Homo sapiens: one gene and its partners. The protein of the gene in region 3 purifies or fractionates together with the protein of the main gene of each other region. This does not show direct contact. Each region holds a gene or a part of one and is shown on either strand. Other genes may lie near its edges. The genes, in order: SLC16A10, STARD10 and ERAP1.

Region 1 (3,750 bases), on a different chromosome or scaffold from region 3:
TTTTTGTTTGCTATTATATATGCATATCTCCCCTGCTAAACTTTACAATGATTACTTCCCTTAAATGGTAAGGATATGTTACTACATTTTTAACACTTTTTGTACCTAGCCCATTGACCCGCATACCACAGCAGTTTCAATAGCTATTTAAAGAACAGAAATTCCAGGTTAAAATGGTACCGTATTCACATGCATAACGAGAGTGTACAAGAATATTCATTGCAGCATTGTTTAGAATGAGTTTGGAAGCAATCTAAATGCCCATCAGAGGGAGAATGCATAGAGTATAATATAGTCAAACAATGCAAACCACCTAAGTTAAAATGGAAAGAATTTGAGTTATCAGTTCACACTGAGGTATTATGTGGATAAGTCACAAACATGATGCGGAATGGAAGAAAAGTAAGTTGCAGAATGATACAAATAGTTTAATAGTATTTATGTCAGGTTTTAAAACTCTCAGCATAACCCAGCATTACCTTTGTCTCAGAATTTATTACAGTCTTGCCCATTCCTCATATGCATACTAAAGACCTAAGAAATATTCACTCTAAAAATAATAGAAAATCAAGGTTAAAAAAAAAGACTATTAATCATATAAAGTTACCCCAAATGATGGGGAGGGAGGTTGATTTAGTAATGGAAATCACTTAGCCCTTGAAGTCAGTTGATATGTGTTTTATTGCCATTCTACTACCCACCAAGACACTTTCACTGAGCTACAGTTTTCTCACCCAAATGGGGTTGACCGCGCTCACCTTGCAGGATAAAGTGAAAGAATTTATGTTAAAGTGTCATGCAGAAGGTCTTAGATTTGTTTTTTGCCTAACCAGCCAAAAAGTCATAATAATGCTCTACAGGGAGAAAACGCTGAATCTGCACCTTTTGTATCTAATTTACTATATGGTTAAAAAAAAATGTCAAAAAACACAACAGGAAGAGGGAAGAAGCAACCCTTCACCTTCCTCATCCTAGTCCCTAATCCGGCTGCCTCCCGTGTTTTCTACATTTAACCCAGAGGGCAAAAAAAGGCGGGGGGACGGGAACGCACGGAACCGTGACTCTTGCAGGGCCCCCTTTGGAACTCCAGTGACCTTCGTACAAATCTCTTTCATTCCTCCAAACTCCACCCCCCGCCCCGCCAACATACGCACACCCCTCTGCGGCCCAGGGAGGCAGGTGAAGAACTACATAACTGGCATAGTCACGAAAGAGACCACAAAAATGACAGGGCGATGACTGGGGTTGAAGGTTCTGGGGTTCTGTTTGTTTTCAAACAATAAAAGGAAGGGCTCCTGTGGACTGTTAGCGTCTGCTCTGCTGAGGGGAAAGGAGGACGATCTCGGCAAGTAAGTTCTGCGACCTGCTTGCAAACACACAGCTCTGCAGCTGGATTCCATATAAAGACGGGCACCCCGAGGCCCCAGAAGCGGCAGGCTCTGTCTGCAACTCGAAAGACCCCCCTGCTCGCACCCTCTGGCACAGGGACCCACCGACATGCACACTCGGAGGCAGACACAGCCCACACGCGGGATGCGCTCGGGGGCCCCACGCGGGTCGCCCAGGCTGGCCTCGGCGGGCGCCGCGCCTCACCTGTCTTAAAGACCATCTTGTCATCGTCTTTGGAGCCGAAGGTTTCCAGCATGGACACGAAGAGCACCCCGCAAGCGTTCTGGATGCCGAACACCGACCCGTTGCACCACATGGCCGCCAGCATCACCAGCCAGCCCCAGCCGCCCTCGGGGGGTTCGGGGGGCTCATGGGGCTCCGCGGTCGCCGGCCCCGCCAGCTCCACCTCCACCTTCTCGACAGCCGCCTCGGGGCTGTCCGAGGGTCCCGGGCCGGGCGGCGGAGCGGCCCCCGTGGGCGCGGGGCCGAGCGGCTGCGCCTCGCTCGTGCCCCGCGCGGAGTCCGGCTCCTCCTGGGAGAGCACCATGGCCCGAGGCGGGCCCCTCAGGCGCCGGAGAAGCGCGAGGGACGCGAGTTACCAGCGGGCTCCCGGAGGAGCTGCGGGGCTCCTGGCGGGCTAACGAGGCCGAGGCGAGGGCGGCGGAGCCCCTGGCGGGCGGGCGGGCTGGCAGCGCGCAGGCGGCCAGCGCGCAGGCGGCCGCGAGGACAGCTGGCGCGCGCGAACACCTCGGGGATCGACACTGAAGCCTCTAGGTCACAGCCCCGCACCCCCGACTGAGCCCACTGCCAGCCGCCGGTTCTTAAAAGCACCCCCCGCCCCGCCGGCTGGGGGCGTGGCCGGGAGCGGGACGTGCCCCCACAGCCTCCAGATGATTGGGCCTCGGAGAGCGGAGGCGGGGCGCCCCGCGGCGCGCGGCCCCAGGTGCCCGCGGCAGACGCTGTCTGCGCGCGCGTCTGCGACGGGGCCTCCTCCTGCTCAGAGAGGGGCACAGATGTGTGGGTCACCCCGCCTCAAAGCATGAGCAGAAGGGGCGCGTCTCCTAGGTGCGGGCGCGGTGGGCCTTCAGGAGAGCCACACTGGATCGTTAGCCTCAACTCACCGACACAGCGTCACAGTCACACTAACATTGTCTCGATTGTGTTTGTTTTATGTTTTGGCATTCACCTCTCAGTACTAATTATAATATGTAAGATTCGTTATGCCACCTGGCTTCTTAAATAAGTCATCTGAAGGATCAGAGCCCTTATTTTATTACTTCAGTTCCATTCTCTTGCATTCGTATACAATTTCCTTATGAATATTTGGCACACCAAAGATGCTTATTTTCAGTCCTCACTGGACTGCAATTCCGAAGTCTTCAACCAACAAACATTTTTAACAGACAGCTAGAAAGCATTACTTTTCAACTACATCAGAGTCGTTTTCACTTTAAACAAAAACTAAAACCTGTATTCAACTCCTCTGTCTCCCTGAAGCATGGAGTGCCATCCTATGTAAAAGAAAAGAAGAGTAACCTGCTATGCAATATTGAGGATGCTTCTTAATTTCTGTTATTCGTATTCTTCACTTCAATCAAAGTCAAAATATGCTAGTTACTTGATGTGCCCACCACTGTGATAGAGTACACAGATGAGTGCGATTGATCTCGTTTCTGCCTCTTATCAGTTGATAAACTGGTAGGAAAAAAGAGTCCTGGGAGAGACTAGGAGGCTCAGATGATGTGTTATAATACATGTACAAAAGAGAGAGATGAGATAGTCCCTTAAATTCTCTCCAAACACTGTAGAAGAGCCTCTACAGCAAACAGCCTTTGGCCGAAGCCCTGATTCATACATACGACTTCAGTGGGTCAAGACAGGAAAAGAGCATTCCAGGTAGAGAAAATAGCATAAACTAAGGAAAGCAAGCCGTGCTTGGTTGTGGAATGGGGAACATAGCTCAAGTGTAATCTGCCTTAGAAATGAGGGTAAAATAGTAAACAAAGGAATAGGCACATAAGTGCACAAAAATGTATGTATGAAGATGATACCCCAGTATTGTTGGAAATAAGGAAAATTTGGAAGTATAATGTACATTGGTAGAAGACTGATTAGATACTTACTTTAAAACCTCTAAAAGTTCTGAAGGTCATCTGTATTTATTGACTTTGAAAGTTGTCCACAACATATTATTGGGCAAAGAAAGCACATCGATTATATATTTGCATGCACACAAACAAACACATATGTAAGAATTATCCACGAGTCAGTACTGATGTAAGTAAATGATTAAATAAATAATGAGGAGAGAATAGACAAATCTCTCCTGCAGGAAATGTAAATACTTTATGAACATACTCC
Region 2 (3,650 bases), on a different chromosome or scaffold from region 3:
GCAGAGCCTCAGGCTCTCAGCCACACCCCCTCCCACACCTGCTCCAGGGCCAGGTCTCTCCTGTCATGGGCTCAGGCTCTTATCAGGCCTCATTCCTGCCCCAAGGCTGCCTGTGCAGTGGGTAGGAGGTCACCTGGAACTGTCTGTCCTCTCTCCACCAGGGTCTGAAGACCTCTGAGGAGATACGCAGGTCTCCCCTGCCTCTCATGCGGCCAGCCTCAGGAGAACAGAGCACGTGAGCATCCAGGCCAGGGCCTCACAGGCCACGTCCTCTGCTGTCTGCCTGCTCCTCATCTCTCCCCAGCTGGGTGCTGAGTTCAGAGGCTCTTGGAGCCAAGAGGGCCCAATGGCACAGACGGGCAAGCAGCCCAGAGAGGGGCAGGAATGTGCCCAAGGTCACATGCAACAGCCAGGACTGGACCCCAGCTGGCCCTGGTTGAATGACTGACAGAAGCTCTTGGTCTCCCGTTTCTCACACCAATACAGGTGCCATGAGGAAGCTGACCTGGGCTTTGAGAGACCTGAGTTCAGGCTCCAAGCTGCCCCCTGCCTTGTACCCAGGATCCACATTCAGCATCTGTCCCTGGGACAGGGACTGAACTGTCAGGAGGTAGTGTCTGTCTCTTTTCCAGTATTCAGAGCACAGTGCAGCCCTGGGGCCAGGTCAGGCTGGAGGCCAGGAGGGAGGGAAGGGGTGGAGGTGGCCTCCAACAGCCCCTTTCTCTTTGTCCTGGCTCCAACTACTGGGCCTTGAGCCACAGTGGCTTCCAGGGACCTCTGGACCCAGGTAAGGGGAAGAGAGATGAGGAAGAGGAATTGAATCAGGTAGATAGCTAGGTGGAGTCCCACCCCCACCCTGGGATCAGGAGCACGGGGCATGTCCAGGGGTCAGCTGGCTTTCCCAGCTCTGGGGACAGGCCCAGAGCAGGCTGAGGCAGGAGAGGGGAGGGGGAAAGGGGGGCAGAAGCTCAGCAAACACCTGCAGTTGAGTCCCAGCCTCCTGGAGTGACCCAGTCATCCCCAGGGATTCTGGCTCCAGACCTGCTGGGTGACCTTGGCAAGCCACTCCCCTTTGTGGGCCTCGGCTTTCTCATCCATCAAACAAGAATAGGATGATGAGAACAACGCGTCCTCCAGGCCTTCAAAGAGTTATTGATGGGGTTAAAGGCCACAGTGTTGACTAAGATGCGAGCCCATGTGGAGAGGGGCAGGGGCTCTGGAGCCAGGCTGGCATGGGTTCCACTCTTGCCTCAGCTGTGGCATGACCTTAGGCAAATAACATTACCTCACTCAGCCTCAGTTTCTTTGTTTGTAACACAGAGACAAGACTACACTGCCCCAGACTAGCCTCGGGGTAAATTAGATGATGGGGAGAAATGCTTGGCTCAGAGCAGGGCTCTCATTATCAGAAATGGGATTATCTGCATGGAACCTGGGAGTCCTGCAATCTTGGGGATGGGAAGCTCACAGGCCTCTGTCCATCTCTCCCAGAGCTCCAACTAGCTGTGCTGAGAGGATCAGGAGTGGGAGCTGGCACCTTGGGGTGCCCATAACCAGGGTCCCAGCCTCCTTCCTGGGTCTGGGCTCTGCTCACCTCCTCTCCCCACCCTCTCTCCATTGTAGGGAGCAAAGCTGGGGAGGCACCCTGCAGGGAGAAGCAAGGCAGGAGGACTGCCAAGATGCTGTAGATCTGGGTTCCAGACCCAGCTCTGCTGAGACAGCTGTGTGACTCTAGGCAGGTCCCTGCCCCTCTCTGAGCCCCAGTATCCTTGCCTGCATCCCAGGGGCAGGAGGGGTATGACATAGGGATTACCAAGGGCTCTTTGGCACCTCCAACATCTGTTCAGTCTGAAAGAAAAGGAGGGTAGGGTCCTGGCTGCCCAGGGTGTATGCCTGTCCAGAAGCCTACAACACCCCAGTTTTTCCAAGTCCCCGCCACCCACAAGGAAGGCCACCTGACAAGTCTGATCTGGCCACGAGTGGTCTGTTGCAGTCAGCCTGGCCCCAGACCCACCAATTCCAGGCCTGGGCTGGGTAGGGTTTATTCATTAACCAAGCCAGATGGAGGAGGTAGCTCCGCCCTATTGACACAGAGGGTGGGAGTACTGGCCTCAGTTCAGACCCCTCCTCCTCTGACTTTCTGGAGTGCCAGCTTGGTGGGGAAACTACACTTCTCCCCCAGTGTGCACTGCCCGCCTGAAGCCTTTCCCAGGTCACAGTCAGGCTCTCGTGAATTCCCTTCTCACCTTTCATTCAATTTGTTCCTTGGTTCTTTCCTCCCCCCTCTCTTCCACCAATATCCCTGCTCTAACTGTGTTGGATGCTGGGGACGCAAAGAGGACAGGACCTGAGAGGCTGAAGCGGGTGGATCACTTGAGGTCAGGAGTTCAAGACCAGCCTGGCCAATGTGGTGAAACCCTATCTCTACTACAAATACAAAAATTAGCTGAGTGTGGTGGTGTGCACCAGCAGTCCCAGCTACTGCTGGGAGGCAGGAGAATCACTTGAACCTGGGAGGTGGAGATTGCAGTGAGCTAAGATCTCGCTACTACACTTCAGCCTGAGAGACAGAGTGAGGCTTCTCAAAAAAAAAAGAAAAAAGGATAGGAGACCTGTCCCTGCTCTCAGGGAACAACCAGCTGGGACATGCCAGCTGCCTTCCCCATCCCTGCTCCTCAGGCTCAGACACAGGTTCTGAGGCCCTGGGCAGCGAATCCCAAAGTGGGAGACACACATGGAAACCCAGAGGGAAAAACAGTCAGATGGCCAAGGTGCAGACAGAGTCAGAGGGGAGAAGGGGAGGCAGAAAGTGAAAAGCAGATAATCGTGTGGGGATGGACAGAACTATATGTAAATGATTAAGACAAAGTGAGGCAGAAGGGCTCAGGGTCAGAGGGGAAAGGTCAGACATCTCAGGTCTTGGTAAGGGGCCAAGATACATGCCTGAACTAAGTCTGAGACTAGGTCCCAGGCAGAAGGGGAGGGTGGACTCCTCCACATTTCCAGGAGGATAGCAGAAGGGAGAAGGCAAGGAAGAGGAAGGCGAAGGGCACAGCCTATTGCCAGAGCCCATTGCAAGGGGACCTACCAGCCCTGGAAATGCAGCACCCACAGCAACATCAGATGTGTTGGGGGCAGCTATTGAGGCCCTTAAACCAGAGTCTTCACGAGCCCCTGCCCCATCTGGTCCCCTGGGGGATATGCGTTCCCAGGGTCCCAAACCCCAAGCCTGCCCTGCACGGCAAAGAGAGGAGAATTGTGGGGTTGGGAAGAGCAGGGGAGATGGCTGTGAGCGACTGATGTGTCTGCAACTGCTCCCTATGTTGGCTTCCCTTGACCCCAGGCCCCTTCCTTCCCCAGCCCACCTGTAGCCTGGCTCTGTGCAAGGCAGGGGTATTGGAGCCCTGCCTTCAGGATCTGCCAGCCACAATCCTGAGTCCCTGCAGGAGGCTAAGGGAGCAGCCAGGGAGGGAGGGAAGGGAAAGAGCAAGAGCAGGGCATCGGGCAGTAAGGAATCGGGTCCTGGGCAACCCAGGGTGCAGAAAGCGGGGAAGGAGACCCAGCTCAGGCTGAGAACCAGGAATCAGGGAGAGAAGGGCCCAGTCTCCCACCTGGAGTAACTCAAGTCAGGAACCAGGTGCAGGCTTCCC
Region 3 (3,650 bases):
CTCGGCTCACTGCAACCTCCACCTCCTGGGTACAAGCGATTCTCCTGCCTCACCCTCCTGAGTAGCTGGGACTACAGGCGCCCGCCACCATGCCCGGCTAATTTTTGTATTTTTAGTAGAGATGGTGTTTCACCATGTTGGCCAGGCTGGTCTCGAACTCCTAACCTCAGGTGATCCTCCTGCCTCGGCTTCCCAAAGTCCTGGTATTAAAGGCATGAGCCACTGTGACCGGCCATAAATGTTGTTTTGTAGAAAATACTATGCTGAAACATTTAGGTGTGAAGGGGAATCATGTCACCAATTTACTGTCAAACAGTTCAGAAAAACATATGCCAAGTATATACATACAGACATATGTATATAGGTATGTATGTAGATAGATGGATATCGATTAATCAAGATTTAAAACCTCCTTAATCCTTTTGGGAAGATGGGGGAGGGAGGTGTATATATTATATATATATATGTGTGTGTATATATATACACATATATATGTATATATACACACACACATATATCCACACAAACATATACATATATATATAGAGAGAGAGAGAGAGCAAGAGAGAGAGGGAGGTGAAGAAAGTAAAGGAGTAAAGAGTTAACATGTATCTAGGTAAAGGATATATAGGAATTTGTTGTGTTATTCTTGTAACTTCTCTATAAGTCTGAAATTGTTTCAAGATAAAAGAATTTTTTAACGGTATCCATCCAGGGTCAATCAAGTTGCAGCATCTTGTTTCTAATAATATTCTTCTATAGCATTAAGCTGACAAACAGGTTCCAAATCTAACTCAGAAGAAGACAACTGAGTCTCTCATCATTCTCGGAAATCACCTAAATTCTTTTGTCCTCAGCTCCAACCAAATGCTAGGCACTATTGTAATCTAGTAGCAGTTGCTTAGGTTGGAGTTGATTTCAAGCCAGTAACCAGAAATTACCATCATATCAAATTACAAAATATGAGAATGTTAAAGTAATTACATCGTCACCTTTACTGAGAATAACCAAGGTTTAAAGCCTCCTTAATCCTACTGGGAAGATGGGGGCAGGGAGTATAAGTCAACTTCATAGGATACACAGATGCAGCTGAAATATTTTAGCAATAGTGGTAAGGGCATTATTTCAAAAGCAAGGTTCCATCCTACAAGGCAGATGTTACCTAGACAACAAAACAAATTTTACTCTAGGAGCATTACCCAGTGTCCGGGGCGCCGTCAGAGCCCTTCATGTAGTGCTCTTGCTTCATGTGTACATTCCTCCCCCTCACTGTGATGGTTATTAGGGGAAAACCCTTCTGCAGTGTCCAAGTGTTCATCATGGTTTTCACATCCACCCCTTCCTGATGCCAATGCTGGTGTGTACACAAAAAGGCAGACACATCACCCATTTAACCCAACTCTAAGAAAAGAGAGAACACCAGCTTATGCTCAAACAGCCGCTACCAGTTGCCAACCTCCCCTCTTAGGAGCACTTTCTGATCCCTTTCTCAGTGTGATGTCCCCAGCCATCACACCTCCATTAGAGCACCAGCTGTTTGCTTGTCATTTTCCTCCACTACACATACGTGTCTGGAGGACAGGTAGCATACCTAGTTCTGCCGGGCACACTTTGGGGCTGGCAATAACACTGGGCACAAAGCAGGCATGTGAATGAATGAAGGAAGAGAAGGGAGAGAAAGTGCCAGGTTTTCAATACCTACCTAACTATGCTGGTTTTGGACAAGCAAGGTGGAAACAATGTTCAGTCAAGAGCCTGTGTTTCTAAAGTGAGAACACAGAGATGACCCACACTCAACAAATAGTGGGAACTCAAAAGGAGCTGTTTTTTGATACTAAAAAAGCTTTTAAGAAATGATTTAAGAAGTAGTAAAGGCTGGGCGCGGTGGCTCATGCCTGTAATCCTAGCACTTTCGGAGTCTGAGTTGGGTGGATCACCTGAGGTCAGGAGTTCAAGACCAGCCTGGCGAACATGGTGAAACCTCATCTCTACTAAGAATACAAAAATTAACCGGGTGTAGTGGCGTGTGCCTGTAATCCCGGCTACCTGGGAGGCTGAGGCAAGAGAATCGCTGGAACCGGGGAGGCAGAGGCTACAGTGAGCCGAGATCACGCCACTGCACTCCAGCCTGGGCAACAGAGTGAGACTCTGTCTCAAAAAAAAAAGAATTAGTAAAAAGATAAAATGTGCCACAGGACAAATCTAGAAACTACTGAATAAAGCAGTCTCTAGGAACAAAAAAGCCAAGAAAGTAAACATATAAAAAGAAAAAAGAAACAAAAAATTCTGTTGTATCTCCAGACTCACCCTCAGCTTCCTCTGAAAACATCCCACAAGTCCAGATGAACAGAGACTCAGGCTGTTTTGTGACTTGATGTTATGAATACTTTATAGCTTAGCAGTTAAAAACATGAGTTAGATCTAAATTCAGATCTCTGCTCTGCAATTTACCAATCAGATGTCTTTGTATTTCATGTTCTCAACTTTAAAAATAGGGATAGTAATAGTACCCAGCTCACAGGTTTATTATGAAGAGTAAAGGAGATAATACATATAAGTGCTTAACATGTGCCTGACACATGACAAGTATTCAAGAATGCTCAGTGCCATTGTCTTTGTACAAATGCAGAGCTCTGTAAATGACTGACATATCCTTTTGACTGCTACAATGCAGCTGTAATCTGCTATAGAAACATGTCATAAATCCACTGCTTTAAAAGGGAAGCTAGAGAAATTAGTATCAGTGAGAAGCATTACCAAGGAAAGCTCTGCAACCCTCCAGTATAGATACACTTTAAGAAAAATTGAAAAAGATTATGAGTATGGAATAGTTTAAATGCAGTCTTATCTGGAATGAGGGTGATATAATCAAGGACCTCAGAAAGTTTGGCACAGAGCTGCCTTTCAAAGAATATGCAGTAAAAGAATGTGCTTGGGGGAACATGTACAGATATAGAAACTTACTGAGGATGAAGATGAATGTTGACTTCTAGAGCAAAAGCCATCCATCCCTTTTACACCATCTGTAGGGCAAATCTAAAAACCAAAAATAAACACATCACTCTTATTTCTATAGAAAACAATGATTCTCCTCAGAGGGATTAACATAATGCAGGGAAAACAAAACAAGATGATAAGCCTGTCAATCCCAAATGCAGAGATATTCAAAAACATACTCACACTTGCCATACTATCCCACAGGTCCTCGTTTTTTGTATTTTTATAGCTATGCTTCTGGAGATACTGTACAATACCACTTTTAAATGCGTCAGCACTAAGATACTCCCTTAGCATATTCAGAATACAAGCTCCCTGAAAAGATAATAGAAATAATTGTTATCTATAGTTTCATTGCAGTCTCATCTGAAATCACATATTCTTTTGCAATAAAACACATTTCTTTGAAAACGCAACTGCAGGAACACTGTTAATGTCTGGCAATTTGTGAAACAGAGTAAGCAGGTTAAACCTGGACCTGTTTAGGCAGGAGATTTGTCTAATGTGATTGCTTATGCTCTGAGCCCACTGAGGCCCTTATTTTCTATCAGTAGCCAGACCTCCCGATGGGGCAAATTAGCATCATCTGCCAACTCCCTTTGTTCACATGTGAGTGGGGATAATGGTGCAGATTAAACATTGGACCTTGAGCT

Evidence for each region.
Region 1: the proteins of ERAP1 (region 3) and SLC16A10 purify together in Homo sapiens (affinity purification with mass spectrometry; one large-scale study listed by BioGRID and IntAct). This does not show direct contact.
Region 2: the proteins of ERAP1 (region 3) and STARD10 fractionate together in Homo sapiens (co-fractionation; one large-scale study listed by BioGRID). This does not show direct contact.

What each region holds. Positions count from the first base shown.
Region 1 is NC_000006.12:111,085,939-111,089,688, reverse strand, and holds the start of SLC16A10 (monocarboxylate transporter 10), read right to left. Parts: upstream 2,187-3,750; 5' UTR 1,937-2,186; coding exon 1,594-1,936; intron 1-1,593. UniProt on the Homo sapiens protein: Sodium- and proton-independent thyroid hormones and aromatic acids transporter.
Region 2 is NC_000011.10:72,777,001-72,780,650, forward strand, and holds part of STARD10 (START domain-containing protein 10), read right to left. Parts: intron 1-3,650. UniProt on the Homo sapiens protein: May play metabolic roles in sperm maturation or fertilization. Phospholipid transfer protein that preferentially selects lipid species containing a palmitoyl or stearoyl chain on the sn-1 and an unsaturated fatty acyl chain (18:1 or 18:2) on the sn-2 position.
Region 3 is NC_000005.10:96,787,332-96,790,981, forward strand, and holds part of ERAP1 (endoplasmic reticulum aminopeptidase 1 isoform b precursor), read right to left. Parts: intron 3,313-3,650; coding exon 3,181-3,312; intron 3,037-3,180; coding exon 2,965-3,036; intron 1,355-2,964; coding exon 1,200-1,354; intron 1-1,199. UniProt on the Homo sapiens protein: Aminopeptidase that plays a central role in peptide trimming, a step required for the generation of most HLA class I-binding peptides.